Homo sapiens: one gene and its partner. The protein of the gene in region 1 interacts with the protein of each later gene in a biochemical or structural test. Each region holds a gene or a part of one and is shown on either strand. Other genes may lie near its edges.

Region 1 (3,500 bases):
ATCACAGCTACTGGGACCCTCGGTTTGGTTCAGAGACTGACACAGCAATGTTTCCCTCTTGAGGGGTCCCCAGTGCCCTCTGCTTTGCCAGAAGAAGGGTTTTCTTGTCTATCTTCAGGGGCACTCGTACCGCATACATGAATCCCCCACATACAAACCTGGCTATAGACCCCAGAGTGGAAGCTAGGGGTGGAGACAGGACCAGCTGTGGCTGCTATGGAAAAGGCTGAGGCCCAGGGGCCTCCCTGCCTGTCAGCAGCTCCGGACTAAGAGTCTGTTTTGTGGGGGCAGCTCTGGAATTCTGTCCTGAGCAGGCATTGCAGTGGTAAGGAGGCAGGGTGTGCGCGGGGTTTCCTATGCCCCCCCAAACCTGACCTCCTCTCCCTCCCAGAAGAGACGCAGGCAGCTCTGGCTGCTCCTCTTGGGGTATAGGGGAGTGGGGTGCACAGTCACCAGGGGCCACTCCTAAAGGCCCCTTGGGCCAGCAATGAGGCAGGATGGAGGAGCGAGCAGGCGCAGGGAGAAGTGTGAGCTCAACAGCCGAGGCAGCACAGTGAGAGGCCCCTTCCTCTCACTCTGACCTGAGAGTGAGCCTCCCAGAGCATGGTCTCTGTAGGGAAAGCAGTGTCTGTCCTGTGTTTCTTTAAATGCAAATTCCCTGCAGTGGCAGACCCTGTGGCCAGCAGCCCTGTCGGGGGCCTGTGAGGGAGACAGTGTGGAAGGTGGGGGGCTCTGTCCCCAAACTCTGCCACCTTCTTGAATCTGCCCAGTGTGGGCTGTAGCTGGGGGAGCTTGGGCCCCGGCCAGCCTGGCCCTGGTCATTTGCAGCCAAACCCTGGGAAGCCAGGCTCAAGTCAGTGGTCCCCGGTCCCAGGGAGCAGCACAGTGGCCCTGCTCTGCCCCAGGCCCGCCACTGCCTCAGAACTGATAAAATTCCCTCTATCCTCCCAGGCTCAAAATAGCTGCAAGTGGAGCTATATTAGGAAAGGGCCAGCACGGAGCTCCATTCCTTCTCCATTTTTGGCCAGTGCTGACAGCTGCAGGGTCATCTCTTGCCCTGACCAGCCCAGGGCCCCCTGCAGAGGGCAGTGTTGGCCTGGCGGGGTGGGGGCTGCCTCTGCCCTCCCTTGGCAGCCTGCTCCTTCTTTGACATTTATTCCTGCCTCCTGCTCAGCTTCTCCCACCCAGGACCTGGGGCCGGGATGGTGGCAGCAGACACATCTGAGAGGAGCCAGTGCCTGGGTCTTGGGGAAGATGAGCCAAAGATGTAAGACCTGCCCAGGGGCCCTTGCACTGAGTGGCCTGAGGGGCACTGCCCTTCAGTGCCAGCCTCAGAAGGGAGGAGAAGAAGGGGGCTGCTGGGATGCCTATGCCCGTCTGCCCTTGCACCACATCTGTTTCTCTCTCCTCCTTCCAAGAGGATACGAGGTGCCAAAGAATTGCACTGCAAGTTGCCCAGAGGAGAGAGTAGCGGAAGGGGCTTCTTTTTGGAGCCAGACAGGACAGAGTTCAAGTTGTGACCCTGCCTCTTCCTAGCACTGTGACTCCGGGCAAATTACCCACCCGTCCCAGCCTGTTTCCTAATTCTAATTCTTGAGATGGTAGTGCCTACCCCGCAGGTGGGTTGTGCAGACTGAACGGGTCATGAGTCTAAGGTGCTCAGCATGGGAGAAGTGTGCCATGGATAAGCACGGGGATTAGCCCTTGCTGACCCTGTTGCTGACCCACTTAGCATAGGTGGTGGCCTCAGCCCAGCAGAGGTTGCCCTAGGCCAGCCCAGGTCAGAGGCTCCAGCCCTTCCTGCCGGCATTGCCTGAGACAGCAGCATCAGCTTTTACTTTGGATGAAGCACCCACTGCACATCCTCCCCTAGCCCACCATCCCTTGGAGGAAACGTCAGACTCTGCTGCTCTGAGCACCAAGAAATAATTTACACATTCATCAGGGTCTGGGCAGCCCCTGCACCGACAGCAGAGTACCTTAGGCACTATGGGAAGCAGAGGTGGGCCTGGCCCCTCACTTCCCTGAGCAGGCAGCAAGTCCCTGTCTCAATGCAAAGTGGAGTCAGGCAGACCTGCATGCCAGTTCTGTCTGCCACTTACTAGCTGTGTGACCTTGGGCAAATTACTTGCTCTCTCTGAGCGTCTATTTTCCAGCTATAAAATGGGGAAAATCATGCCCACCTCTGGAGTTGCAGAGAGAGTTGTTTTAGAGAGTGTTGCTGAGAGATAAGGCATGTGGACTGTTAGCTGGTCCATAGCCAGAGTGCATGGTCAGTATGGGGAGACATTATCATCATTGCAGGTGGGTCTCCTGGGAGTCCCAGGCCACCAGAGGCTGACCTCTCTGCCTGAGGCCAGTTCCTGAAAAGGACCGGGAAGACCTACCAGCCCAACAAATGCGGGACAAGGAGGTCATCTCTGTTCTACTATTCCCTGAGTTTTCTGGCAAAAGTCCTTTGCTGGGGAACCCTGGGGGCATATATGGCTCTGTCACCTTGGGTAAGGGAAGCAAGCCATGTGGTGCCAGAAATCAGCTTCACTGAGGATTCTAGAAAGAGCTGGGGGGGTGGGGAAGCTGAGGGCCACAGGGAGCAGTGACCTGATGGGGCACAGGTGCCTTCTGCTGCAAGGGCAAAGGCAAGGGCATGGGCTTGGGCCAGACTGACCGGATTCCTACTGTGACTCTTCTGGGTGGCTCCAGGCAGTGATGATACCAGGTGTCATGCAGTGAGTGGGTGACAGACAAAGCTCAGAGCTTTACAAGTGTTGGGCCCTTTATCCTCCCAATAACCCTGAGACATGGACAGTGTGATTCCTCCATGATTCGGAGGAGGAACCCTGAACCACTAGGCTCTACTGCCTTGACTCAGCCTGCCCTGCCTGGAGAGGGCTATGCCAATTGCACAGGGCGGGAGTAGAAGTTAGGGTGAGAGAACAAGCGTGAAGGGCTCAGAGCTAACACAGGCCCAGTGTGGGGACTCCGTTCCTTTGCCTCCCCCCTACAGTGCCCCAGTCCCATGTCCTTTTACCTGCTGTGCTCCCAGAGTCCCGCCAGCTAGACCTTAGGGGTGAGGCTGCTGTTCTCCTGCACAGCCCCTTTCTCCTTGGGGTCCTGCTTCCTCGCCACCCCACCCTGGCCAAGGTCACTCCTGCAAACCCGCTCCCTGCACGCCACTGCCAAAGAGTCTCTCCATATACAATTCAAGGGCTCCCTCCTCCAGGCAGCTTCCCAGACTATTCCTAGTCCCAGATAACTCGCTTTTCCACCTCTCGAACGCTCCCCTGCTCCTGCCTCCGAGCTCCCAGAGGGGTGGGGACCTGTGCATAGCTCTTGAAGGCTGCAGGCTGTGCTGTCCTGTTCTGGGGAGTGGCCTAGTGAAAAAGTGTTGGAAGTCAGAATCTCCTGAATTCAGGACTGGCTCGGCCACATGGTAGCTGGACAAACGGACTGTGACTTAACCTTCTCTGAGCCTCAGTTTCCTCCTCTGCAAAATCCGA
Region 2 (3,500 bases), on another chromosome or scaffold:
CATAAGCCTTACTTTTAGACCAAGAAATGCAAGGAACCCTGCTAGACTGAAGGCAGGAAGTGGGAAACACCACAGCCTGACACAGGAGCTTCTATGTATGGATGCTTCATTGAGGAACCTGGATTCCTCTCCTTTATCTTCTTCACTGAAAGGAACTGGTTTTTGTACTAGGATTAAGCCCAACCACACAGTCCCAACACTCTGTGTTTGGATCTTCAAGACTCAATCCAATAATTTCAGTGACTCACAGTACAGGCCTCCGAAATCAACATCTAAAACCAATCATATGGAAATTCTGCGCCCCCCTCCCCCTCCTTTCTATTTCACAGAGGCCTCAAGGATCAAACTGACCAAAAGATGAGGATGCACTACAGAAGACGAAAATGGGGGCTGGAAAATTGTAAGGGATGAGGTTCCTAACCCACAATGAATGGATATTCTGAAATAAATTTTGCTCAAATTAAGGATTTCCCCTTGAGCTTCTGAAAACAATAATAAACCACACCTAAACCCCTTTAATAGTAAGGAGCTAACCATAATTCAATCAGGTTACAGGACTTGAGATGTGCATTGTGGACCCCATCAACATGTAATCTACAGAGAGTTCAGCGTACACCTGAAAGGTTGATAAGAGTTAAAACACCTCCATCTCAGCACCTCTGAAGTGGAGAAATAATAGCTCCCTGCCTCCTCCACATGGCACAGTGAGGATCAAACTGAGATACAACTTGTAAAAGCCCTCTATAAACTGTGCATCTACCTGACCACCATGACTTACGTGAGTGGCACGCTGGCGTTGCAGAGCCCTAGGATAGATTCTCCAAGGGCAGAATGTGAAAATGTGTTTTGGACAAGAAAGAGCTGGCATGTCAAAAGGCTCTGAGACAATACTATCCTGATTATAAAGAGATTCCTAGGACTTGCAGTTGGGTATGAAGAAGATAACAAGAGGGAATAGAGAGACAACATAGGGAAGCAAATCATTTTGGAGGTTCTCATGGGTCAATGCCATCACCTACCAAGATGGGGAATGAAATATAGTACTCAGTAGTCATAGTGCTTTGAGTAGTTTGTATATTTCCAGCACATTTCTGATAGAAGAATCCCACAAACCCAGGCACAACACCGATGAATGGTATGCAACAGTATGAAAGTAAGAGGAAGGGCCCGGTGCGGGAGCTCACGCCTGTAATCCTAGCACTTTGGGAGGCCGAGGTGGGTGGATCACCTGAGGTCAGGAGTTTGAGACCAGCCTGGCCAACAACGGTGAAACCGCATCTCTACTAAAAATACAAAAATTAGCCAGGCGTGGTGGCGCACACCTGTGGTCCCAGCTACTTGGGAGGCTGAGGCAGGAGAATCACTTGAACCCAGGAGGCAGAGGTTGCAGTGAGCCAAGCTCACACCACCACACTCCAGCCTGAGTGACAGAGCAAGACTCCATCTCAAAAAAAAAAAAAAAAAAAAAAAAGGATGAAGAAGTGTGGTTATTTATTGTAACATCAGAAACAGAAGTAGCAGAAGATAAGATGTCCAAGGTCACAAAGGTCTTGTATATCTGGCTATTTGAAATTTGTCCAGTCCAGCATACATTCTCAACCCTAGCCACACATTACAATAGTCTGCAGAGCTTCTTTAAAAAATAAAGACCTTCACCCACACCTCCCACTATGGGATTGTAATCTCATTGGCCTTACTGGTCAGATTTTCATTTAAGACACAACATTGGTGACAGAGTGGAAGAAGAAAATAAAGTAAAGGCAAAACTATTTCCAAATTCCAGAAGAGAGATAATGAAAGCCAGAATCAGGACAGCAGCACTGGGAAGAGATATAGAAGGACTGGAGAAGTATTTAGGAGACGGACTCCATGAGATGGATGAGACAGAGAAGTCTAGAATGACTTCTAAATTTTCACTTTGGTTGAAGGAGGAAACACAGGAGAAAATGTTTACTGGTGTTTTGTAAGGGAGGTAAGGAGAAGAAGACAGCTGATGAGCTGGGTTCAGTATGTGTTTAGTTTGAGGTACCTGCAAGACATCTAATGGAAATGCCTTAATTACATCTAAATAGGCTCATGGCAATTTGTGTCATGGGAAACTGTCTCACAGCACGCTGAACAAAAGTGGTTATATTGTCCCCTGATTTGCCAATATTACAAGTAACATGGGGTGGAGGATATTCAAAACAGATCCGTGGGTTGTTCTTCCTTGAACAAGCTTTATTCCTCCCTGATGCATCTGTCAAAGCAATCTGTGAGAACCCCAATGCCCACAAAGATGGAGGGAGAGGTGCTGGAATGCAGACGCAAAAGGCAGGGAGGAATGAGGCTGTTTTGGAACAACAGGTCACAGCTGCAGATCGAGATCATATTACCACACCTTCCCTCAAATCTATCCAACCTCATCAGCTGAATAATGCTTACCATCTGGTCTCACAATTACAGTCTTTTTTTCTAGAATGACTTTTTCCTAACTAGTTGAACTTTGCTTACATATGGAATGCAAGAACCAAAGTTAAAGAGGAAAACAGTCCTTGCCAGAGAAGACCTCTAGAGACAGTGTCCAAGATTTTTGATGAAAAACACAGAAAGCGTTTCTAGTCTGGCTGGCAAAGTTGTGTTTTTACAAAAGAACCAGACATCCCATAGATCCAAAACAAGTCAAGGTAAATCAATTCTACAACAGCACTGTGCCCAAGGTGGCCTCACTCTTCTTGTTTTTCAAATGAGGATCCCAGAAACAGTCCCATCTCAGAGACCTGCGGTGGGAATCAAGGGAGAAAATAAATGAGTGCCTAAGTTGCTTTTTCTGTTTTCCCTAAATTGTTTATTCCCTCAGGTCAGGCAGCGTGGTATCCCAGAATCTAATCAAATTTTAGTTCATCTCTGTAGTTACGTTGTGATTTCTGCTATTAAGGTACACACATACTACATAGTTAGCTAGGAAATCCTTCAATGCTATGTATCTTAACAGAGCCTATGTCAGAAAAAGTGGCCACAGATGCAAAGCTTATTCTTCCCCAGTCTTGCAGCTAAGGGTTCATTATAATGGGGGTGTATGTGGATGGCTTTTTGAGATTAACGCTTTTTCTAAAAGAATAACCCAGATTAATTAAAAAATCTTTTTTCCTGACTATTGAAACTATATAATTTACCTGAGGTATCTCCACAGTATTATTGTTCTATATTATTTCCACCCTGATACCAATTTTACTCCATCTAGTTTGGTGTTCAACACTGCCATTCCTTCCTGGTCACAGCACATGTTGCATACATTTAAAGTTTCATGATTTCATTTATTGTATGATGTGCTCTAGTATTTTCATTACTCACTCTTGAGAGCAACATTTATCTTTTAGAGAAGGATAATAACACCATACAGAGCTCTAAAGCAGAGCAGAATACTCATTATGTTCTCTTTTTAACATTCCTGGGTGACAGTTTTAGCTTCATTAGACTCTCCTGATCACCACAATGCTACTTTCCTGTGCCCAAGAGAA

What was found. Proteins that work in one complex are often made in the same cells at the same time.
Region 2: the proteins of LDB3 (region 1) and LPAR1 interact in a test that uses a peptide from one of them, tested with the Homo sapiens proteins (one large-scale study listed by IntAct).

Annotation. Positions count from the first base shown.
Region 1 is NC_000010.11:86,682,011-86,685,510, reverse strand, and holds part of LDB3 (LIM domain-binding protein 3), read right to left. Parts: intron 1-3,500. UniProt on the Homo sapiens protein: May function as an adapter in striated muscle to couple protein kinase C-mediated signaling via its LIM domains to the cytoskeleton.
Region 2 is NC_000009.12:110,877,971-110,881,470, forward strand, and holds part of LPAR1 (lysophosphatidic acid receptor 1), read right to left. Parts: intron 1-3,500.